Regions from separate parts of the Homo sapiens genome. Here all the other regions are linked to region 4. Evidence: fine-mapped expression QTL. A gene starts in region 4. Each other region holds a variant in brackets. All regions are shown on one strand. Distances are from middle to middle.

The links. PIP is the estimated chance that this variant, and not a neighbour inherited with it, causes the effect.
Region 1: its variant is fine-mapped to the expression of ATF7IP2 in whole blood (TOPMed, PIP above 0.99).
Region 2: its variant is fine-mapped to the expression of ATF7IP2 in whole blood (TOPMed, PIP 0.96).
Region 3: its variant is fine-mapped to the expression of ATF7IP2 in thyroid (GTEx, PIP above 0.99).
Region 5: its variant is fine-mapped to the expression of ATF7IP2 in whole blood (TOPMed, PIP above 0.99).

The regions. Positions count from the first base shown.
Region 1 is chr16:10,359,275-10,364,380 of GRCh38, forward strand. No RefSeq gene overlaps it. Among named protein-coding and RNA genes, the nearest start is that of ATF7IP2, 24 kb to the right of the region's middle. The variant A/G (reference allele first, on the strand shown) is at 3,187.
Region 2 is chr16:10,467,788-10,472,893 of GRCh38, forward strand. ATF7IP2 (activating transcription factor 7 interacting protein 2) reads left to right here. Exons shown (of 14, transcript NM_001393719.1): 10 at 4,323-4,396. Among named protein-coding and RNA genes, the nearest start is that of LINC01290, 58 kb to the right of the region's middle. The variant T/A (reference allele first, on the strand shown) is at 2,842.
Region 3 is chr16:10,259,965-10,265,070 of GRCh38, forward strand. No RefSeq gene overlaps it. Among named protein-coding and RNA genes, the nearest start is that of GRIN2A, 80 kb to the left of the region's middle. The variant G/A (reference allele first, on the strand shown) is at 2,395.
Region 4 is chr16:10,382,939-10,388,044 of GRCh38, forward strand. It overlaps ATF7IP2 (activating transcription factor 7 interacting protein 2), which reads left to right and starts at 3,123. Exons shown (of 14, transcript NM_001393719.1): 1 at 3,123-3,184. RefSeq lists a silencer at 2,862-3,001.
Region 5 is chr16:10,332,684-10,337,789 of GRCh38, forward strand. No RefSeq gene overlaps it. Among named protein-coding and RNA genes, the nearest start is that of ATF7IP2, 51 kb to the right of the region's middle. The variant G/A (reference allele first, on the strand shown) is at 2,883.

The sequences.
Region 1 (5,106 bases), 24 kb before region 4:
AATGTGGGATGTTCCAGGTTAAATTGTGCTTTTCTGTCTGAGACCTGCAATCAACTATTTCTTCAGGAAGCCATGGTTTCGTGGAGTGGGAAATAACATTTTAACTGAACACTGGGGGAGTTCATAGCCATTAGGTTGGTCATTTTTCCTGGGTTTTTCAGCATGGAAAGCTAGGAAATACATATTGCTTTTGCTTTCAAAAGAGTAAATAGATCATGAGTTCAGTGTATGAAAGAGTTATTTGGATAAAGGCGCTTTCCTGATGTAGATGAATGTGAGGTTCCCTATTCTCCTTTTCTCAATTTCCTTTAGAAAGTTTAGTTGTCAACACACCATCCAATGTTTTCTTTTGGTAATGACTTTTCTGTGTTAGTTGAAAAGGGAAAAATAATTACCCTCTCTTTTTCTAATATAGTTGCTTATGTCTGAATTATTCAAACTAAATCGAGCTGTTGCATGACCAAAATTGGTATCTTTTTTGGGTTTAGCTAAGTATTTTTGATACCAAAAAGTAAAAAAGAAGCCAGGCACAGTGGGGAGTGCCTGTAATCCCAGCTACATGGGAGGTTGAGGGAGAATCGCTTGAGCCCCAGAGTTGGAGACTGCAGTGAGCTATGATTGCACCACTGTGCTCTGGATGACAGAGATCCCAACTCTTAAAAAAAAAAGAAAAGAAGTTATGCTGAAGAAAAGAACAATAATTTTAAAATACAGTACTGCATAATCCCACTTAGAATAAATTCTAAAACAAGGCAACTAATACATTTTAATTGAAAGAAGATGAGTTTTATGGGGTTGGTGATCAGTGGTTGGGGGATGATTGCAAAGGGCATAAGGGAATGTGGGGATGGTGATGGAAGTTCATCTTTGGTATGACAATGTCTATACTTCTCCAAACTCATTGTACACTTAAAATATGTGCCTTTTGCTTTATGTAATTTTTACATCCATAAAGTTGACTTCATTAAAAAAGAAAAAAATTTTGGAATGACTCAAACTTGAACTCATATGATGGAAACAAATATCGAAGCAAAGTCTCACTTTAGTAAAATATTTGAAATAATCTAAGCAGAAACGGACCTCAGATACAGAGCCTACTTCTGATGTAAGCATCTTGGAGACTAGCCTTTGATCCCTTCAAGTAAATGGCCAGGAATATGCTGAGTTTGTTTGTGCTGGCTACTAGACTGATGAGCATCAAGTCATGTCAACGTTTCCCATCAACACACTGCAGACGGGAGACTGATAACAAGCATATAGTAAACAGGCAGATAGATAACCTAAGTCTATTCCCTCCAGGGAGGGACCATAAATATGCAAAATCTCTCCGAAATCTGGAGGGGTGATATGGTTTGCCTCTGTGTCCCCACTCAAATCTCTTCTGAAATTGTAATCCCCACGTGTCAAGAGAGGGATCCGGTGGGAGGTGATTGGATTGTGGGGACGGTTTCCCCCATGCCGTTCTTATGATAGAGAATTCTCATGAGATCTGATGCTTTAAAAGTGGCAGTTTCGGCCAGGCGCAGTGGCTCACACCTGTAATCCCAGCACTTTGGGAGGCTAAGGTGGGCAGATCACAAGATCAGGAGATCGAGACCATCCTGGCTAACAAGGTGAAACACCGTCTCTACTAAAAATACAAAAAATTAGCTGGGCACGGTGGCACGTGCCTGTAGTCCCAGCTACTCGGGAAGCTGAGGCAGGAGAATCCTTTGAACCTAGGGGGCGGAGGTTGCAGTGAACCAAGATAGCACCACTGCACTCCAGCCTGGGTGACAGAGCGAGACTCCATCTCAAACAAAACAAACAAACAAAAAATGTGGCAGTTTCCCCTGCACTCGCTCTCTTTCCTGACACCATGTAAGAGGTGCCTTGCTTCCCCTTCACCTTCCGCCATGATTGTACATTTCCCAAACCCTTCCAGACATGCAGAACTATAAGTCAATTAAACCTCCTTTCTTTATAAATTACCCAGTCTCAGGTAGTATATTCATAGCAGTGTGAGAATGGACTAATACAAGGGGGAAAAGCAGTGTTCTCCTGCTGGACTCATCACTCCACTTGGGCCTTATGTTTGGTACTGATACAATTGTCACAGTTTCCTTATTGGACACAGGAGGGTAGGTAAGGCAGAGTAGAGTTTTTTTGTTTTTTTGTTTTTTTGTTTTTTGAGACAGTTTCACTCTTGTCACCCAGGCTGGAGTGCAATGACACGATCTCGGCTCACTGCAACCTCTGCTTCCCGAGTTCAAACGATTCTCCTGCTTCAGCCTTCTGAGTAGCTGGGATTACAGGCACCTGCCACCATGCCCAGCTAATTTTTGTGTTTTTAGTACAGAGAGGGTTTCACCATGTTGGCCAGGCTGGTCTCGAACTACTGACTTCAGGTGATCCACCTGCCTTGGCCTCCCAAATTGCTGGGATTACAGGCATGAGCCACCATGCCTGGCACAGAGTAGAGTTTTATTAAGCAACAGAAAGTTCTCAGTAAAGACAGGGGTCCTGAAAGTGGGTTGCCACCAACAAGGTCAGCCCCAGGGTGTTTTGTTTTGTTTTGTTTTGTTTTTTGAGATGGAGTCTTGCTCTGTTGCCCAGGCTGGAGTGCAATGTCACGATCTCGGCTCATTGCAACCTCCGTCTCCCAGGTTCAAGCGATTATCCTGCCTCAGCCTCCCAAGTAGCTGTGATTACAGACATGCACCACCACGCCTGGCTAATTTTTGTATTTTTGATAGAGACGGGATTTCACCATGTTGGCCAGGCTGGTCTCGAACTCCCGACCTCAAGCAATCTGCCTGCCTCAGCCTCACAAAGTGCTGGAATTACAGGTGTGAGCCACCATGCCCAGCCTTCCCAGGGGCTTGTATCCTTCCTTTCTAGGGGTGTTTTTCTCATTTGCATCGTACACAAACCTCTGCTTCCTGGCTGCTTCCTGGTCCCAGTTGTTAGTGCGCAGGTGCGTTCTTCTCTATAGTTACTCCATGTTAGTTATTAGCCATAAGCACCACAGAAAAGCCCACTGAGGGGGGGTAAAACTGCACTGCAGATGTCATATTAATGATATTATAATGAGCTTGGGTCAGGTTAAGGACATTTAGTTGATTTATTGTGCCTGTGTCTAAGTCGGGACAAACATCCTTTTGAGCAAAAATTCTAGTAAAAGAGGAAGTTCTTAACCACATTTCC[A/G]TCTGCTAGCTGTATAACAGGGGTGGTTGCGGGTGCATTCCTGTAGGCATTATCTTTCTTCTGAGGTCCTCCGCCTCTTATCTGCCTAACCAGCCCCTGTCTCCTCTCTCACAGTCATGTGGGGAGTCCAGGGAGCTAGGAACATTGTACCTTTACCCATTTGCGTAATTTTCACTCTGTAAATATTTCCATAAACTATGTTATCAAAGACATAGTCTGCAACACCATCTGTGGTGAGGCACCTTTCTTTTTTTTTATTTTCTTTTTTCTGTTTTTGTTTTTTTTTTTTTTTGGGACAGAGTCTCCCTCTGTCACCCAGACTGGAGTGCAATGGCTCGATCTCAGCTCACTGCAACCTCTGCCCCACACCCCAGGTTTAAGCGATTCTCCTGCCTCAGCCTCTCGAGTAGCTGGTATTATAGGCTCCCACCACCATGCCTGACTAATTTTTGTATTTTTAGTAGAGACAGGGTTTCACTACATTGGCCAGGCTGGTCTCAAACTTCTGACCCCAGGTGATCTGCCCACCTCGGCCTCCCAAAGTACTGGGATTACAGTCATGAGCCACTGTGCCCAGCCGAGGCGCCTTTCTTTTAACCACATCACTGTGCCTAGCTCTGATACCCATTGATGTGAATTCCCCAAAAGTAAAGCTTTAACAAGAATGGAGTAATTTTATAGTTCACAGTCTGAATGCATTCTAAGAGTATATAATCTTGTTCTATTTAGTTATGTCAACCTGAAATAATTGAAAGGCTTAAAATCCAGTTTTAAAGAGTTTATTCAAGTGAAAAGCTGGGAATGGCTTTTCACTTGAATAAACCTTTCTCACACAAAGACTTCACAGCTATCACAATGTCTAAGATGGAATGTTAAATATACTCTTTTAAATTGGAAAGGAGGCCAAGTATGGTGGCTCATGCCTGTAATCCCAGCACTTTGGGAGGCCAAGCTGGGTGGATCACCTGAGGTCAGGAGTTCAAGACAAGCTTGACCAATATGGTGAAACCCCGTCTCTACTAAAAATATAAAAATTAGCCAAACGTGGTAGCATGCCCCTGTAATCCCAACTACTTAGGAGGCTGAGGCAGGAGAATTGCTTGAACCCGGAAGGTGGAGGTTGCAGTGAGCCGAGATCCCGCCACTGCACTCTACCCTGGGCGACATCTTGAGGAAAAAAAAAAAAAACATGGAAAGGAAACAGTCCCCCAAAGTCTTACCTCATTCTAGTATTAGCCCAAAAGTGTGACTCCAAAGTCTCATCAGAGACAAGGCAAGTCCCTTCTGCCTAGGAGCCTGTAAAATACAAAGCAAGTTAGTTATTTCCAAGATGCAATGGGGGTACAGGCATTCGTTAATTGTTCCCATTCCAAATGGGAGAAATTGGCCAAAATAAAAGGGCTGCAGGCCCCATGAAAGTCTAAAACCCAAGAGGGCAGTCATTTTCTTGTCTGGAGACATGAGCACTAGAGAAAATGGAATCAGTGTACTCAAGTTAAAAGCTAAGTTCTTGCTCACATACACAGAAAACAAAGGAAATTAACAGGATTATGTTTTCTTTTCTTTTTATTTTTTTTTGAGATGGAGTTTTTTGCTCTTGTCGCCCAGGCTGGAGTGCAAAAGCATGATCTCAGCTCACTGCAACCTTCACCTCCCAGATTCAAGGAGTAGCTGGGATTACAGGTGCCCATGACCATGCCTGACTAATTTTTGTATTTTTAGTAGAGACGGGATTTCACCATGTTGGCCAGGCTGGTCTCGAACTCCTGACCTCATGATCTGCCCGTCTCAGCCTCCCAAAGTGCTGGGATTACAGGAGTGAGCCACCAAGCCTGGTCTGAGGATTATAAAGTTTTCTATACAAGACTAATTTAACAATTTAATCTGTTAGAGATTGTATTCCTTTTTTTTTTTTTTTTT
Region 2 (5,106 bases), 85 kb after region 4:
GGTGATCCACCCGCCTCGGCCCCACAAAGTGCTGGGATTACAGGTGTGAGCCATGGCGCCCAGCCAAAAATCAGCCAAAAATCAAATATTCTTTTTTTTTTTTTTTTTTGAGACAGAGTTTTGCTCTTGTTGTCCAGGCTAGAGTGCAATGTCATGATCTTGGCTTACCACAACCTCTGCCTTCCGAGTTTAAGCGTTTCTCCTGCCTCAGCCTCCCGAGTAGCTGGGATTAAAGGCACGTGCCACCATGCCCGACTAATTTTGTATTTTTTAGTAGAGACGGGGTTTCTCCATGTTGGTCAGGCTGGTCTCGAACTCCCGACCTCAGGTGATCCTCCCACCTCCACCTCCCAAAGTGCTGGGATTACAGGCATGAGCCACCGTGCCTGGCCCAAATCAAATATTCTTAATAAAATTTAGATTTAAATATTTGTTTTTGTTTCTTAGAAATAATGGCAAATGTTAGAGTCCCATTGAGAAATGTGATATTTAAAAAATTGTTGAATTTGTGTTTTTTTAAATCTGCATGGAAAACTGTTGAGCATAAACTGAAAAATGAACATGATTTTTGCCTCTCCCCATGCAGTCAACAGCTACAGGAACTGACATTTTGCTATAAACAAGGCAAATCAGGCTGAAAAATTATTTTCAGATATTGTTCTACCAGGAGTTTAGGATCATGATTGGGAAAACAAATGACATGAACTCTACCATTGTCCCAGCTTCCTGCCTGGAGGCATTTTCCAGGTCAAGAGCAGGGATGGAGGAGGGATTCCAAACAGAGCCTTGTGGTCTTGCTGAGTTTAGGTCAGAGATTGGAGAATCTGAGTTGACCAGAATTTATGAAGTGGAACAGTGAAGAGAAAAAAATTCAGATAGAGCTCTGAAGATCTGCAAAGGGGCCTTGAAATATTGGCTGAATACAGATCTGTATGCAAAGGATGAAACTACGAGAGACTGGGGAAAGAACTATTGGAAAGAAGGCCAAGTGATTGATTCCTAGAAGTCATACATCTTGTTTTCCCCCTGGCTAGAAGAAAGATTGGTAACATTTTGCTTTCCCCTTGGCTAAAATGAAGAAAATTTATAATCAGAAGTAACAGGTAGGGTCCACAGATGGTTATTGCTTTAGTGGGGCTCAATTAGTCCCAGAGACTGCAAAGAATCTATACACAGAAAAGCCAAAAGCAAGCTTCAAAGGAATCAGGCTAATCCTAAGTAATTTAATTGCATGCCAGAACAAAGTCTAACACTCTTCTGAAGAAATGAAACAACATCCATTACCCAACAGCATAAATTTTACAATATCTGACATCTAATAAGAAATTCCCAGGCATGCAACATAGCAAAAAATATGACCTATCAACAAGGAGAAGAATGAAGTGATCTACCTAGAAATAATTTGGACTTAGCAGACGACCTAAAAGAGCTATTGCCAATATATCAGTGAAAGAGGTATAGAAAATGTTCAGTCTAAAGCATGGAGAGGAAAAAGACTGAAAAAACAATGAACAGAGCATCAGAGACCTATGGAACAGTATCAGGCAGTCTAATACACATTATTGGAGTATCACTAAGGCAGGAGCTGAGCAAATGTTTGAAGATACAGTGTCTGAAAATTTTCCATAGTTGATGCAAATTCTAAATCCATAAATGAAAAAATGTTAAATTCAAGCAGAAGAAACATGAAAGCATACAAAACCACATCATCAGATTGCTGAAAGTCAGTGAGGAAGGGAAAATTTTAAAAAGTAGCCACACAAAAGACACATCACATAGAAAGGAACAGAAAGTCTGACCAACATGGAGAAAACCCCGTCTCTACTAAAAATATAAAATTAGCCCAGCATTGTGGCGCATGCCTGTAATCCCAGCTACTCGGGAGGCTGAGGCAGGAGAATCACTTTGAACCAAGGAGGCAGAGGTTGCGGTGAGCCGAGATCATGCCACTGCACTCCAGCCTGGGAAACGAGCAAAACACCGTCTCAAAAAACAAAAAAGGAACAAAAAGTAAGAATGGCACCATACTTCTTGCTGTAAGCTGTGCAAACTAGAAGACATCTCTAAAATTGAGATCATAGATACTTCTAAAGTATTGAAAGTTTAAAAAAAAAAAAAAGTCCATTCAGAATTCTATATGCAGTGAAAATATGTTTCCAAAGTGTAGGGGAAAAACAGACTTTTTAAGCCAAAAAAAAGGGAGAGAATACATCAACAGACCTACATTACAAGAAATTTTGGAGGAGATTTTTCAGGCAAAAGGAAAATAGTATTAAATAGAAATTTGGATCTGTACAAAGTAATATAGACTGACAGACATTGTAAATATGTTGGCAAATAGAAAATATTTTTGTTTCTTTATAGTGTATACACACAACACACTCTATATAGAAACACTACATCCTATATATATGTAGAATATATAGTTTAGAAATTATATATATACACACACACAAGCAAGAAACAATTGGAATTTGAAATTTAAAATGGATGCCATTTACAATGACTTCAGAGAACATAATATATTTAGGGATAAACCAAAACCACCTAACCTAAAACTACAAAGTATTACTGAAGAAATTAAAGGAGACCTAAATAAGTGGTGAGATATGTAACTTTCATGAATTCATTAAGATGTTACTTCACCCCAAATTGTATATCTATCAATGCCTCAGCCGTTTTTGTAGTAAGTAACAAACTGATTAAAAACTTAAGGCCAGGCATGATGGCTTACACTTATAATCCCAGCATCTTGGGAGGCCAGGGCAGGAGGATCACTTGAGGTCAGGAGTTCAAGACCAGCCTGGCCAACATAAAAAAACATTTTTAAAAAAATTTTTT[T/A]AAAAAGTTAGCCAGGCCTGGTGACACATGCTGTCATCCCAGCTACTTAGGAGGCCGAGATGAGAGGATCTTTTGAGCCCAGAGGTTCAGGCTTCAGCAAGATACATTTGCACCACTACACTCCAGCCTGGGAGACAGAGCACGAGTCTGTCTCTTAAAAATATATATATATGTATATATATATATGTGTGTGTGTATATATATATATATGTGTGTGTATATATATGTGTGTGTGTGTGTGTGTGAATATATATATGAAAATGCAGAGACCCAGAAGATGAAAACAATGTTGGGAAAGAAAGTTAGAAGACTACACTATCTTTGTTCAAGACTTAACTATAAAGGTGTAGTATTAAGACAGTGGTGTTGGCATAGGGATAGGTATGTTGACCAGTGGACACACTAGAGACTGCACATGTAGTTCATTGGTTTACAACAAAGGTACCGATGTAGTTTAACAGGAAAAGATGTTCTTTTCAAAAATGTTGCTGGAATAGAGGGAAAAGTGAACCTCAGCTCTTACTTCATACCATAAACAAAAATTAACTCAAAATGGATCATACACCTAAGTACAAACAGTAAAAACAGAAGATGTCTGCAAGAAAATGGTATAATTGGACTGGGCGCAGTGGCTCACACCTGTAATCCCAGCACTTTGGGAGGCCAAGGTGGGCGGATCACCTGAGGTCAGGAGTTCAAGACCAGCCTGACCAACATGGTGAAACCCTGTCTCTACTAAAAATAGAAAAATTAGCCGGGCATGGTGGCATATGCTTGTAATCCCAGCTACTGAAGAGGCTGAGGCAGGAGAATCGCTTGAACCTGGGAGACAGAGGTTTCGGTGAGCCAAGATTGCGCCACTGCACTTCAGCCTGGGGGACAAGAGCAAAACTCCATCTCAAAAAACAAAAAAGTCGCTCATAAAAAAAAAGGGTCAAAATGGCTTGAAATATTCTATAACCGTAATCAGCATCATTTATCATCATTGTCTCAAATTTGTGGTAAATATTGCTACTGGAGAGATAAAATGAAGAGTAGTAGCAGTTCTTTTTAAAATAATTTTCTTTGTTATAGTTTTCTACCTTTAGGAGTCCAGGTGTCTTTATGGGTCTTAATAGATTTCCTTCATTACATGATGTTTCATTTTTATAGAAGTAAGTATATACGCTCAAAGGAATTTGTATGTTTTATACATTTATGTCCATTGTATACTTATATATATTTTGAGTCATTGTGAAAGACCCATAAAATGTAGTAGGGATCTAATTATTGGATTTTGATGAATCTTTAGTCATATAACGGAACTGGTAATAAATGGAGTTTTTTTGGGTATTTGGTTTTATCATTTCTATTTCCCCCCACGATTGTTCAATTAAAACATTATGAAATGTTAAGTTAGAGGACTCCTAACCACTAATTGCATGTTTAAGCCTGATAATGCATGTTTAGTTTTTGTTTTTAATTTCTTTTTATCATTTTAGTAACAATGATGATGTTATGTTGATTTCTGTGGAAAGTCCTAATTTGACAACTCCAATTACATCAAATCCAACAGGTATCTTATAGCTGATTAGAATATGATCTATCAAGTTAGAAGGCCTTAAATCAATGTTTGCTTTAAAGTGAAAAATTGAATAATATCTTTTAATAAAATGAAAAAGTTAAATGTACTCTCAAATGTTCTAATTTATATCATGGTTAATATTACCTAAATAAATGATTCCTTAATGTAATTGAGATTTCATTTTAACCTTGTGTTTTATCAGTTTAGGGCCTTTTGTTTCTTTTATGTGTTTAATGACTTTATAACTTGTAAAAACTACTTATTTTTAATGGTTTGCCCTGGCCTTTTTTTGATGGTAGTGACGGTTTGTTTTTTGTCTTCTTATTTTTTATCTATTAAGTTATCTTATAGTCTACTTAAGATTTAAAATTTGTCTAGTCAGTCTGGGTGTGGTGGCTCACACCTGTAATCCAAGCACTTTGGGAGGCTGAGGCAGGCAGATCACCTGAGGTCAGGAGTTCAAGACCAGCCTGGCCAACAAAATGAAACCCCATCTGTATTAAAAATACAAAAATTAGCCAGGCATGGTGGCAGGTGCCTGTAATCCCAGCTACTCTGGAGGGTGAGGCAGGAGAATTGCTTGAACCTTGGAGGCAGAGACTGCAGTGAGCTGAGATCGTGCTACTGCACTCCAGCCTGGGCAAAACAGCAAGACTCCGTCTCAAAAAAAAAAAAAAAAAAATTTTAACCTTACATTTCCA
Region 3 (5,106 bases), 120 kb before region 4:
ATTTTTTTTTTAAATCAGAGTCTTGCTCTGTTGCCCAGGGTGGAGTGCAGTGGCTCGATCTTGGCCCACTGCAACCCCTGCCTCCCAGGTTCAAGCAATTCTCTTGCCTCAGCCTTCCCGGTAGCTGGGATTACAGGCATATGCCAACACGCCTGGCTAATTTTTGTATTTTTAGTAGAGACAAGGTTTCACCATGTTGGCCAGGCTGGTCTTGAACTCCTGACCTCAAGTGATCTGCCCTCCTCAGCCTCCCAAAGTGCTAGGATTGCAGGCGTGAGCCACCATGCCTGACCTCATTTAAAACATTTAATTCAGCTCCAAAATGAGCCCTAAGAGATGAAAAAGCAAAAGCATTCTTGACCAAGTAGACTCTATTTTTTAAAAAGAAATATAGCAATCTCTGGTGCCATTTTGTGTGCAGTAAAGCGGTGAAGCAAACATCCTCCATAGAGGTGACTGTCACACGCGTCCGTGTGAAGAGAGTCCATCAAACAGGCTTTGTGTGAGCAACAAGGCTGTTTATTTCACCTGGGTGCAGGTGGGCTGAGTCCAAAATGGAGTCAGCAAAGGCTGGTGGGATTATAACTAGTTCTTTAGGTTTAGGATAGGCGTACAAAGTATATTCTTAAGGGCGGGGAGAATATTACAAAGTACCTTCTTAAGGGCGGGGGAGAATATGTGTATCAGTTAGGGTGGGGCAGGAACAAATCACAATGGTGGAATGTCATCAGTTAAGGCTATTTTCACTTCTTTTGTGGCTCTTCAGTTGCTTCAGGCCATCTGGATATATACGTGCAGGTCACAGGGGATACGATGGCTTAGCTTGGGCTCAGGGACCTGACCGTGGTATCAATCTCACTCCTCACATCCAAAGAAATGTCTAAGGTTGTAGCTCCCACACCCCAAAAGATTAAATTTCTCTCAAGTCATGATTCTATTCCGTAACGATTCTATCCGATGGTGCTTATGGCAAAAGTCAAGAAAATTGCCTATTGCAAACTCAGTTCCAGTTTCTGATTTTTGAGGGATGTGTTTAGACTACTGCCCCCCTTGTTTGCGTCTAAAATTTCCATCCAGATGAACAGTAAGCAAAATAAGTGATCGTGGAAAAACATACTCAAGAGGCACAAAAGACTTTTCGATAGCAATGGGAAAAGCCTTAGCCAAAATGAGGGCTTACATTTGCAACGTGCCCATTCCATGTCAGATACTCTTCTAGGTACTTCTCACATGCAAACTCATCTAATTAGGGGGTGGATCTTATTATGATTCCTGTCTTACAGATGAGCACATTGCAGCTCAGAGAGGTAGAGTGACTGGACCCTTGACACACAGCCAGTAAGGGTGGGAGCTGGCATTGGATCATAGTCTTAATGTCGTAACCGAGTGAGTTATAGAGAAACGCCACACTCTGAGACTAATTCAGGAGTCCTTTACTGCCGGCGACCGAGAGACGGCTAGAGCTCAAAAACTCTGTCGGCCTCGAAGAAGGGGCTAGATTTCCTTTTATATCTTGGTTTAAAAAGGGGAGGGGGAGCCTAGCTGAAGCAATTTCACAGAAGCAGAACAGGCAAAAAGTTAAAAGATAAATGGTTACAGAAACAGTTACAGAAAAATAAACAGTTCCAGGTGCAGGGGCTTAAACTATCACAAAGAGATAAATGCAGGGGCTTTGGGTACCATCAACCGAGCGAGTTCCCAGGAGCTGCTGGTACAGCTTGCCTCAGTATCTTATCAGTAAGTGCATTCCTGGATGCCTGGATGTGCTTGGAGTCAGCTTGTACCAGTTATGTCCTTAAGGGAGGAGGATAAGGGGCTGCAAGTGAAGAAACGAAAACGGAGTCTGTCTGGCTCTCTCAGCTAAGTGACAGTCAATCAGGCTAAAACAAGGTAGGGTATCACATTAACGCTACACTCCACAGCGTCAATAATTTGCAGTAATCACCAATGCTACTTTTAAGAAGTTTTAATATGCACTTTGGTTATCCATTTATAACTTTAATACTAAAGTTAATTATCACGAGGCCAGTCATGGTGGCTCATGCCTGTAGTTAATACAAAAATTAGCCAGGCATGGTGGCATGCACCTGTAGTCCTGGCTACTTGAGAGGCTCAGGTAGGAAAATTGCTTGAACCAAAAAGGTGGAAGTTGCTGTGAGCCGAGATCGCACCACTGCACTCCAGCCTGGGCGACAGAGTGAGACTCAGTCTCAAAAATAAATAAATAAAAAGTAAAAACATAAAGTGAATTATCTGGTAGAAGTATAGGAGGTATGGAGGGAGAAAGTATCTACACCCAAGACACATTAGAGTCCTTCCTGAGGCACTTAAGTCCCAGACCCTGGGACACTAAACGACATGAAAGGCAAGAAATAGCTACCATTTTGCAATTCC[G/A]TATTATTCCAAATATACCTCTTACTGCCTTTTTTCATGCTCCTTGTATTTGCTGAAGAGGTTTAAAACAAAGAGTAAACTGCAATGCCAGCTCAACTTGCATAATTCTAATGAATCGATTCCAAACAACATTCAAAGCAGTAATATCCTCACCCTCACTTCCTCCAGGCCCACCCCTAAATCAAAAATAAAAAATGGCTTGATCCCTTTACAAACACTAGACTAGGAACTTCACTTATAATATCTCATTTAATCCCTAGCTTAAACTGACAAGCAAATATTAGTTCTCATTTTACAAATGAGGAGACTGAGGTTCATAGTGGTTCAGTGTCTTGCCCAAGGTCACACACCTAGTAAAGGACATGAAGAGGGTTCTGAACCACGTCTGTTTTCAAAATCTCCAGGTTCTGCTGCCTTCTGTATTTCAAGGTGGTTTCACCAGAGAAATCCCCCAAGCCCCAGAAGGAAAAACAAACAAAAAAACAGTTATATTCCAATGTCCTCACAAGAACTGGAGGCCGGAGGCCATGGCTCATTCTTGTAATCCCAGTACTTCGGGAGGCCAAAGCAGGAGGACTGCTTGATCTCAGGAGTTCAAGACCAGCATGGGCAACATGCCGAAACCCTGTCTCTACCAAAAATACAAAAATTACCTTGGTATGGTGGTGCATGCCTGTAGTCCCAGCTATTTGGGAGGCTGAGATGGGAGGACGGCTTGAGCCCAGGAGACAGATGCTGTAGTGAGCTGAGATCGTGCCACTGCATTCCAGCCTGAACAACACAGCAAGACTCTGTCTCAAAAAAAAATTCATTTTAATTTTAAAAAAAGAACTGGAGATAGTATAAATGTTATTAAACTTGAGTGGTGCTAGTTGAGAACTGTGACCAATTAAATAGCTACTTCCTCTGTTCTGAACTGCATCCAGCCTGTTGATGAGATTGGCAGATCAGCGCTTTGAGCCGTAATGTGAAGAATCTCAGGAGAAGAAAAGAGCAGATAATGGCACTTCACTATGGGTGGGGCTCAGTGGAGAGGCCAACACTTGTAAGAATTGTGTTAATAGCAATGTTTCTGGGATCCCTGCAGTCAACCAGAATGTGACATGTAAAAAGAAGTTTATTATTTTTTCCATATTAATACTGATCAAGTGCAGACATAAAACCTCTCTGCAGGTTTCATTTCTTTTGGATACAGGCACATTTTGCCATTTTCAAACACAAAATCTCTGTGACCAATGCTTGCTCATGAAAGGCTAATAATAATGCATTGACTGCTACAAGCTATTTTTTGTTCTGGCTGAAACTTTGTGACACTCCCTAGGTGAAGCTTTTCTTCCAGGGTTTTTACAAGGTCACTGCTGTTTTCTAGGGCACTCGTCCCAAACTGTGGAGGTGAGAGTAGTGCTGGACATGTGTCGATGCCAGAACGTTCATCTCGATATTTGAGTCAGAGTTTAAAATTCTTTTTTTGTTTTTTTCTTTTCTGACACGGAGTCTCGCTCCGTCGCCCAGGCTAGAGTGCAGTGGCGCAATCTCAGCTTACTGCAACCTCTGCCTCCTGGGTTCAAGCAATTCTCCTGCCTCAGCCTCCTGAGTAGCTGGGACTACAGGTGTGCGCCACCACGCCAGGCTAATTTTTGTATTTTTAGAAGACATGGGGTTTCACCATGTTGGTCAGGCTGGTCTCAAGCTCCTGACCTCGTGATCCACCCGCCTCAGCCTCCCAAAGTGTTGGGATTACAGGCGTGAACCACTGTGCCTGGCACAATGAACTGGTTTTGAACAACTTTTTTGTCTCAAACACTGCCCTTGACACTGGAGCTAGACCAGGGAAAAAGGACCAAGTTGGCCTCCATGGAGCTTATATCCTAGTGGGGCAGGAAAAAAGATTTTTAAAAGATAAATTAAATAAACGAATTAACATTTGGAATGGGTAGAATTGTGTCCCCCAAAAAGATATGCTCAAGTCCTAACCCCCAGTGACCTTATTGGAAAATAAAGTCTTTATAGATATAATCAAGGTAAGATGAGGTTATACGGGATTCGGTGGGCCTTAAATTCACTGACTGATGAATCCCTTTATAAAAGGAGGAGGCCGGGTGCGGTGGCTCATGCCTGTAATCTCAGCACTTTGGGAGGCTGAGGTGGGAGGACCACTTGAGCCCAACAGTTCGAGGCCAGCCTGGGCAACATGGTAAAACCCTGTCTCTACAAAAAATTAAAAAATTAGCTGGGTGTGGTGGCATGTACCTGTGGTCCCAGCTACTTGGGAGGCTGAGGTGGGAGGATAGCTTGAGCCTGTGAGGTTGAGGCTGCAGTGAGCCATGATAGCACCCCTGCACTCCAGCCTGGGCAAAAGAACAAGACCCTGTCTGAAAAAATAAATAAATAAATATGAAAAAAAACCATATACATATGTGAGGGTAATTTGGACACAGACAGACATGGGAGGAGAAGCCCATGTGCAGGCGGAGGCCCAGATGGGACTGACCCATCTACAAATGGAGGAACCCCGAGGAGTGCTGGGGCCACCAGAAGCTGGGAGAGGCAAGGAGACATTCTCCCCTAGAGCCTCACGGGAGAGTGCAGTCATTCCTAACTTCGATCTCAGACTTCTGGCCTCCAGAACTGTGACGGAATAAATTTCTGTTGTTTAAACCTCCCAGTGCCTGGTACCGTGTTACGGCAGCTTCAGGAAACAAATATAGCAGC
Region 4 (5,106 bases):
TACAAATTCTGCCCGCCACAATCCTCAATGGAAGAAAACTATCAAACAAGAAAGCATTCCAACACAAAAATGTAAAGAATTTACTCAAGATAATTGATATTCTCAGCTTTATTAATTTTAATAATAATAGTTACTATACATCAAGTGTCTACTATAAGTCAGGAAATGTACAAGCAACTGTATCTGTTATTATGTTAAGCATTATTTTAAAAAGTCAAACAGCAAATTGAGAGACTTCATAGTACTTCATATAGCACATTATGTGAATGAATTTATTTATTTATTTATTGAGATGGAGTCTCGCTCTGTCACCAGGCTGGAGTGCAGTGGCGTGATCTTGACTCATTGCAACCTCCTTCTTTCAGGTTCAAGCAATTCTCCTACCTCAGTCTCCCAAGTAGCTGGGACTACAGGTGCGCACCATCATGCCCAGCTAATTTTTGTATTTTTAGTAGAGACAGGGTTTCACCATGTTGGCCAGGATGGTCTTGATCTCAAGTGATCTGCCCACCTTGGCCTCCCAAAGTGCTGGGATTACAGGCATGAGCCACCGCACCCAGCCAACAATAAACTTTATTAACATAATGTCCAGTAAATATCAATTATTATAATTTTTTTATAGAGATGGGGTCTCGCTATATTGCCCAGGCTGGTCTCAAACTCCTGGGCTCAAGCTATCTGTCGGTCTTGGCATCCTAAAATGCTAGGATTACAGGTGTCCACCTGGCCTATTATATTACTATTGTTAAAATGACATACAAGATATCCTAGTACCTTAAATAGACATAACATTTCTAAAGGCTAGTTACTCACTGTTAACTGAATTAAGTCCAAATTCCTTATCTGACTGCAACTTACTACCTCCCACTCCCTCCCACACTATCTCTCTTAGCAACCCTATAATTATTTTCAAAATCATGTTCTAGAACAACAAAAAATGTGCAAAGATTAGGATTGTTTTACATTTTTGCTAATTTCCTTAACGTCTGACTTAATACAGTAAGACTCTCTCTCTCTTTTTTTTTTTTTTTTGGTTTTTGAGACGGAGTCTCACTCTGTTGCCCATGCTGGGGTGCAGTAGTGCGATCTTGGCTTACCACAAACTCCACCTCTCGGGTTCAGTCGATTCTCCTGCTTCAGCCTCCCGAGTAGCTGGGATTACAGGCACGCGCCACCATGCCCGGCTAATTTTTGTATTTTTAGTAGAGATGGGGTTTCACTATGTTGGCCAGGCTGGTCTCGAACTATTGACCTCATGATCCGGCTGCCTCAGCCTCCCAAAGTGCTGGGATTACAGATGTGAGCCACTGCGCTTGGCCTCTCTCTCTCTCTTTTCTAAGACAGTCTCTTGCTCTATCACCCAGGGTGGAGTGCAGTGACACTATCACAGCTCACTGCAGTCCCTAACTCCTAAGCTTAAGCGATCCTCCCGTCCTCTCAGCCTCCCGTGTAGGTGGAAGGATGCAGCTAACTTTTTATTTTTACTTTTCTAGAAAAGTGGGTATCTCACTTTGTTGCCCAGGTTGGTAGTTAGATTCTCATGTCTGCTTCTGTATTCAATCTGTAGCAATATCACCCGTCGATTTTCCAGAGGCTTCTAGAAAATTCCATGTACTCTCCTGACTCAGAGAATGAAAAAAGCAAAATCATCTTTATATTATTATAAAAATAGTATAATTATAAAAATAGGATTGACATTAAAGATTACCCCTAGATCCCTGGAGCATATTTGGGGAACTGGCTGGTTGGAGTATGTTATTCCATTGATGACCCAACCTAGATTGTCCGGACTTGCCTCATTTTTCTCCTAACTGGAAGTGACAAGGCAGGCAGCTCTAGCCTCATGACAAGCGTGGTGGCTCACGCCTGTAATCCCAGCACTTTGGGAGGCCGAAGCAGGTGGATTACCTGAGGTCGGGAGTTCATGACCAGCCTGATCAACATTGAGAAACCCCGTCTCTACTAAAAATAAAAAAAAAACTTAGCCAGGCACTGTGGCGCATGCCTATAATCCCAGCTACTTGTTGGGGGCAGAGGTAGGAGAAGCGCTTGAACCCGGGAGGCGGAGGTTGTGGTGAGCCGAGATCGCGCCATTGCACTCCAGCCTAGGCAACAAGAGCAAAACTCTGTCAAATAAATAAATAAATTAATTAATGAAAAAGAGGGCATTATGGATCTAATCTACTGTTGTATTTCCTGTATTTTCTACACAGTGGGCATTCAGTGACCACCTGTTGAGTGAGTTCATGGCATCCAAGTGCACAGCCACCTAAGGCATCGGGCCTCATGAAATCACAAGCAGCCAAGGCTGGCAGGTTCCTGGGACAATTTAGCAAACTCAAGGCTATGGTGCGGGTGGGTGCAGTGGCTCATGCCTGTAATCCCAACATATGGGGAGGCAGAGGTGGCGGATCACCTGAGGTCCAGGAGTTCAAGACCAGCCTGGCCAACATAGTGAAACCCCATGTCTATTAAAAGTACAAAAATTAGCCGGGCATGGTGGTGCACACCTGTGGTCCCAGCTACTCGGGAGGCTAAGGCAGGAGAATCGCTTGAACCTGGGAGGTGGGAAATGGGGGTACAGTGAGCTGAGATCACGCCACTGAACTCCAGCCTGGGCGACAAGAGCGAAACTCCGTCTCAAAAAAAAAAAAAAAAAAAAAAGACTACGGTGCTAGGACCAATCTCCTGAGTCACAAAATTTAAGGAGTCGTCCAAAAAAGTAAATAAGATAAATATTTTCAAACAATATTAGAAAATTCAAATCGGAAACTACCGACCGGGTGAGGAGTTGTTTTTGTAAATAAGGTCTTATTCCTAATAAGTTTCGAAAGTCTAAATCTTCACACGAGTCACTCAAAAGAAAGGCCCAGCTCAGGAGCCTGCATCTGCGCTATGGCGGGTAAGCCCCGGTGGCTGACCGGAAGAAGCGCCCACGGAGGCGAACCCCAGGCGCCCCTCAGCCTACTTCCATTTCCCCTCGCGACCCTTCGCCCCGCCCACTCTAGCTGGCTGTGCCTGACTGGCTGGGCTGCCGCATATTCGCGCTGCCATTGGTCCATAATCAGCTGGGGGTGGGCGTAGGGAGACCTACTTCAGCAGGTCCTGGCCGGACCAGCATTGTTAACGGCTGCGGTTCGAAGTGGCTGTGGGTATTGCTGCGGCTGGTGCGTCGTCGCTCTAGGTACGTTGGGGCCGGGCGAGTGTCCTGCGAGAGCGGCGATTGGCGGGGTGGCGGCTCTAGGAGCGTCGGTCGCCTCTCTGAGGGCCGGCCCCGGAGGCCTCGGAGCGCCGGGCCTACCGGACGTTTGCGGCGAAGCTGCCCTGACTGAAAAGCGTCCGCGGGGCCGTCTGACAGGTCCGGGAAGAGGCCCCTGAGGGGCGGACGGGCGCGTCTCCACCGTTTTCGCAGAGGGATACTGGTGAAGCGGGAGTGGTGTGCGGCCTCAGGTCCGGGCGGCACTGGGGTTAGGGACTGCGGAGGGAAGTGGTGCGTGTTTTTTGTCCTGAGGGGTAAGTAAAAGCTCGCTCTTGTCCGGAATGCTTTCAGAAATTAACGGATAAATCTCCACCTCCACCAATTTTAGTGTCCCATTGCCAAATTTTCTTGAGTTGTTTTAATCATCTAATGAAGTCAGGTGCCAGAAGGCAACTGGATCTCGCCTGGCGGCCTTGAAGTTTGTTAAAAAGTAGGGACCAGAGCATCAGGAAAAATACAAAATTCTGAGTAAAATGCTGAAATCCCGTACCTCTGAGCTTGCCGGTGTAAGGATGGTAGGATTTAAGGAAGACGATTTCCTTAAGGTAGAAGTTCGTTTTTATGAATATGTTTTTAAGAAAATTCCATCTTATCGCCCTTCTCTAACCAGTTTTCTCCAAGTTTGGCAAGCAAGTTTGAGAAAGAGAGGACGCAATAATTTTTTTTGCCTTATTTTTGTTAAAACCTTACCGCACTTAAGGAAACGGACTTTCTACCTTTCCGTGTTTCTGTGTTGAAAATGAAGTTTCTAACCACGTGTTCCTTCCTTTACGACACAATGGCTTTTTCTGTTCTGAAGACTTGCATATGGTTAATATGTATGGAAGAAGAGGACAGTTGTACTGAATAGTCCACATTAGAAAAATTATGTCATATTCACTTAAATTGTTATTCTAGATTGCGACTTAATACTGTTTTTATTATGATTTTGTCATATTTATTGTAGCCAGTAAATGACCTGCGACATAACTATTTGCAAAACAAATGGGGAAGACCAAGATAAAGATAAGTTATATCACAGGAAAGCAATTGAAAATGCAAAAATGAAGCATCTGAATGAAGGACTAATAACACTGAATTCAGCTTTTGTGAAGTATGCCTTTCTTCTTAGCTCGTTTATTCTGCAATACGTTTGTAGAAGTGTTGACTCCGATCTTAATCAAATTTACTTCACTCTCAGTCTTATCTGCAGATATGTACAGACCACATCCTAAGATTGACTTCTGCCTCAACAGAAATACATGAGCCAGTGCCTTATTGGAAATGATTTGCGTGTTTTAAGAACTGGTGTATATAGGTACATCTTGAATGTTCTGCTTTCCTTGCCTTATGCCTGTACTTCACCTCAGCCTTCAATTCCATTGTGTTTCCTTGCTACTTGGTATCTTGAAATCTGGTACGAAACTATTGCATGATCCCTGCACCTTTGCTTCTGCATATATCATAGCTCTCTTATAGTGAGTGTGCACAATCTATTTCATTTGATGTAATCAAAGTTTAATATATTGGATAGTTAAAAATAAAATACAACTTTAAATGCGCAAGAGTATTAGTTCTCATTGTTGAGCGAGATGATACAAAATACCAAAAAATCTTATTCTCTCATTCTATGTCAGTCTATTTTACTCCCCCCCCCTCCCCCCGCCACCCGGACACACACACACTGCGGTGACTTATCTATCTCGTTTATTTTATTTTATTTTACTTATTTATTTTTCTTTGTGAGGCAGAGATTCGCTCTTTGGCTCAGGCTGGAGTGAAGTGGCGCGATCTCGGCTCACTGCAACCTCCTCCCTCCGGGTTCAAGTGATTCTCCTGCCTCAGCCTTGCAAGTAGCTGGGATTATA
Region 5 (5,106 bases), 50 kb before region 4:
TTTCACTTTTCTTTTTATAGAGATAGGGTCTTGCTATGTTGCCTAGCTGGTCTCAAACTCTTGGGCCCAACCAATCTTCCTGCTCGTGAAGAATCACATTCTTGGGCCCGAGCACGGTGACTGACACCTGTAATCCCAGCACTATGGGAGGCCAAGGCAGGCACATCACTTGGGCTCAGGACTTCAAGACCAGCCTGGCCAACATGATGAAACCCCTTCTGTACTAAAAACACAAAAATTAGCTGGACGTAGTGGTGTGTGCCTGTAATCCCAGCTACTCAGGAGGCTCAGACAGGAGAACTGCTTGAATCTAGGAGGCGGAAGTTGCAGTGAGCTGAGATCACGCCACTACGCTCCAGCCTGGGCAATAGAGCAAGATTCCATCTAAAAAAAAGAATCATTTTTTTGTTTCTTGTGAAGATCCCCATGTACATGTAAAACTAATAAAATGTGGGCCGGATGGGGTGGCTCATGCCTGTAATTCCAGCACTTTGGGAGGCTGAGGTGGGCAGATCACAAGGTCAAGAGATCGAGATCATCCTGGCCAACATGGTGAAACCCCGTCTCTACTAAAAATACAAAAATTAGCTGGGCGTGATGGCGCATACCTGTAGTCCCAGCTGCTTGGGAGGCTAAGGTAGGAGAATCGCTTGAACCCGGGAGGCGGAGGTTGCAGTGAGCCGAGATCGCACCACTGCCCTCCAGCCTGGGTGACACAGAGAGAGACTCCGTCTCAAAAAAAAAAAAAAGTGTATATTTCCTCTTGAGTGGGTGTGGTGATGCACACCTACAGACCCAGCTACTCAGGAAGCTGAAGTAGGACAAATGCTTGGGCCCAGGAGGTGAAGGCTGCAGTGAGCTGTGATTGCGCCATTGCACTCCAGCCTGGGCAACAAAATGAGACTCTATCTCAAAATAAATAAAACAAGCAAACATACCAACCACAATTTCATCAATGTTTTCAACTCGAAATAATCAATATGCCAATCTAGCATATTTTGGGTTGGCACGTTCTTCACTCCTTCAACTTTTTGTGGGGCCTGTTATGTTTTTAAGGAGACACCCTGGGAGGAAGGAGGAGAAGGCCATCGCCTCCCCCCTCATTATTAAACAAAAAAAAGGTTGCTCCCCTTGTCCCTCCTCTGTCCCACTGGTGCCTCTTCTGTCAATTCTGCCAAGATTCCACCCTCAACTCCAAATCAAGAAATGCATCTGAGGCCACTATATGTGTAAAAAACCTTCCTGAAGGGCAGGAGAACTCAGGAGGCATTATACATTTCATCCATGCACTATCAACCAACACTGGGGAGCCACAAACAAAGGGAGGGACTTTTATTTTATTTTATTTTTATTTTTTTGACACAGAGTCTCGCTTTGTCATCCAGGGTAGAGTCCAGTGGCACGATCTCAGCTTACTGAAAGCTCTGCCTCCAGGGGTTCAAGTGATTCTCCTGCCTCAGCCTCCCGAGTAGCTTGGATTACAGACATGCGCCACCACACCCGGCTCATTTTGTATTTTTAGTGGAGACGGGGCTTCACCATGTTGGCCAGGCTGGTCTCGAACTCCTGACCCTGTGATCTGCCCATGTCGGCTTCCCAAAGTGCTGGGATGACAAGCGTGAGCCACCGTGCCCCGCCCATTTTATTTTTGAGACAGAGTCTCGATCTGTCACCCAGGCTGGAGTGCAGTGGAGTGATCTCAGCTCCATGCAATCTCCACCTCCCAGATTCAAATGATTCTCCCACCTCAGCCTCCTGAGTAGCTGGGACTACAGGCATCCGCCATCATGCCCGGCTAATTTTTGTATTTTTGTAGAGATGGGGTTTCCCCATGTTGGCCAGGCTGGTCTGGCATTCCTGACCTCAGGTGATCCACCATCCTTGGCCTCCCAAAGTGCTGGAATTACAGGCGTGAGTCACTGCACCTGGCCCAGGAAGGCATTTTAATCAGGGTTTTTATGCATTGCAATTTGGGAGAAACAAATCTAGCAAGTAGCTAAAACGTGTTTCAGCCAGGCAAGACTCTAGGCAGGGGTTTCTAAAGGTTTACTGCAAGTTTACCTAAGCGGAAGACAGTAGCACAGTCTGTGATTGACACATGACCTGTCAACCTCAAAGGGAGAAGCTGAGACAATATTAATATAAAGTTTATTTGGGTCAAGGTTGAGGGCAGCAGTCCAGGACACACTTCCAACTTGCTGTGGGGCGTGCTCCAGAGGACATTAGAGAGGCTGAAGTTTTTAAAGAAAAAATAACCAATGAGGAGAGAGGGTGATTACAAACATTGTTAGGAATTCTCATGGGTTTACAGAAATAACATTGGCTAGTGATTGGCTATATATTGGTGAACTGTAGGGCATTTGGTATTTTAGGGGTACGTGGCCTTAGTTAAGTGTAGAAGCCACACAGCAAGTGGCTTCAAGAGGTGATTATTATTTGGCTGGGTGCAGTGACTCAAGCCTGTAATCCCAGCACTTTGGGAGGTTGAAGTGGGAGGATGACTTGAGCCCAGGAGTGTGAGACCAGCCTGGGCAACATAGGGCGACTATATCTCTGCTGAAAACTTTTTAAAAATTTAGCCGGACATGGTGGTGCACACCTGTAGCCCCAGCTACTCAGGGGTGAAAGCCAGAGGATTGCTTGGGCCTAAGAGTTTGAGACCAGCCTAGACAACACAGTGAGACCCTGTCTCTACAAAAAATTTAAAAATTAGCCATGCATGCTGGTGTGTGCTTGCAGTCCCAGCTACTCAGGAGGCTGAGATGGGAGGATCACTTGAGCCCAGGAGGGGGAGGCTGCAGTGAGCTGTGACGGTGCCACTGCAGTCCAGCCTGGGCCACAGAGGCGGACCCTGTCTCTGAAAAAAAAAAATAAAAAATAAG[G/A]TGATTATTAATTCAAAGGGAAGTAACCTAACTGCTGTTTCATTTCAATGCCTCTTTGGCCTGATGGCTTAAAGGGGCCTGTATTCCTTGAATAAAACATTTCTTCTTGTTTTTTTCATTTGTTTGTTTTTTCCTCCCCCTATAGGCCAGCTGACAGCTTAGAAAGACTCTAGGCCATGATCAGCTTAAAATTCAGCACAGCTGTGTCTTCAGGAGGTTCGTGATCTGCCCCAGTGTGAGCAGTTCAAACCCAATGAAGCTGCTTCTCCAGAACGTTTGCGATCTGGCCCAGTTCAAACAGGTCAGATCCCTCTGGATCCATATATGACTGAGGGCCAACTTTTGCCCTCCTGGCTCCTTGACAGAGACCTCCGACAAATCATCTCCACGTTGGCTTTCTTTCTTTTTTTTTTTTTTTGAGACGGAGTTTTGCTCGTTTCCCAGACTGGAGTGCAATGGCGCAATCTCGGCTCACCGCAACCTCCGCCTCCTAGGTTCAAGCGATTCTCCTGCCTCAGCCTCCTTAGTAGCTGGGATTACAGGCATGTGCCACAATGCCCAGCTAATTTTGTATTTTTAATAGAGACAGGGTTTCTCCATGTTGGCCAGGCTGGTCTCGAGCTCCCGACCTCAGGTGATCCGCCCACCTCGGCCTCCCAAAGTGCTGGGATTGCAGGCGTGAGCCACCACGCCTGGCCTCCATGTTGGATTTCTTTTCACAGCACTGTGTCAAAATATAGCAGGAATTATTGCAACAGCAACTGTTATTAATCACACCGTAGAGCAAATCATAAGAAAACTGCAAGAACATCTTTTTTTTTTTTTTTTTTTTTTTGAGACAGGGTCTCACTTTGTCTCCCAGGCTGCAGTGCAGTGGCATGATCAGGGTTCCCTGCAGCCTTGACCTCCCAGGCTCAAGTGATTCTTCCACCTTAGCCTCCTGAGTAGCCGGGACTACAGGTGAGCGCCACCAGGTCCTGCGAATTTTTGTAGTTTTCATAGACACAAGATTTTGCCATGTTGTTCAGGCTGGTCTCAAACTCCTGGGCTCAAGCTAACCTCACAAAGTGCTGAGATTAGAAGTGTGAGCCACCATGCCTGGCACCAGAAGATCTTATATGCCATACGTCTTTATATATTCACAGTAGCAATGGGTAAGTATATTCCGGTAACATTTTTCAAAACTTCCCCACCCACAGCCAACCCTCCACCCTTGCTATTCTTTTTTTTTTTTTTTTTTTTTTTTTGAGATGGCATCTCTCTCTGTCACCCAGGGTGGAGTGCAGTGGCGCGATCTTGGCTCGCTGCAACCTCCGCCTCCTGGGTTCACGCCATCCTCCTGCCTCAGCCTCTCCAAGTAGCTGGGACTACAGGCGCCCTCCACCACGCCTGGCTAATCTTATTTTTTTGTGTGTATTTTTAGTAGAGACAGGGTTTCACCGTGGTCTCGATCTCCTGACCTCGTGATCCGCCCGCCTCAGCCTCACAAAGTGCTGGGATTACAAGCATGAGCCACTGCGCCCAGCACTTTTTTTTTTTTTTTTTGAGGCAGAGTCTTGTTCTGTCATCTGGGCCAGAGTGCAGTGGCATGATCTAGGCTCACTGCAACCTCTGCCTCCTGGGTCCCAGTGATTCTCCTGCCTCGGCCTCCCCAGTAGCTGGGATTACAGGCATGCACCACCACACCCAGCTAACTTTTTATATTTTTGGTAGAGATGGGGTTTCACCGCATTGGCCACGCTGGTCTCAAACTCCTGACCTCAAGTGATCCGCCCACCTCAGCCTCCCAAAGGGCTGGGATTACAGGTGTGAGCCACTGCACCTGACCCAAGTTCTTTAAGTGCACTTCCTCTTAAGTGCACTTCCAAAATTCACATCCAAAATAGTTTTAAAACTAAATTGATTTTTTTCCCCAGTGAACTCATTTGGTAGCAAAGCCTGACTTGTGACTATTTATGGTGTGGAGGAGGAAAAACTTTTCCTCTACCCTTTTAGGTTCTTTTGGGTGGTGGGGGGTGTGGCGGACTGCGAATTAAGGTGAAGAAAGCTAGATTAACACGAGAAAAACGGCTTATATGTATGCAATACAGGAGCCAACAAAAGAAGTAGCTTGCAGGCCGGGCGCGGTGGCTCACGCCTGTAATCCCAGCAATTTGGGAGGCTGAGGTGGGTGAATCACCTGAGGTCAGGAGTTCAAGGCCAGCCTGGCCAACATGGCGAAACC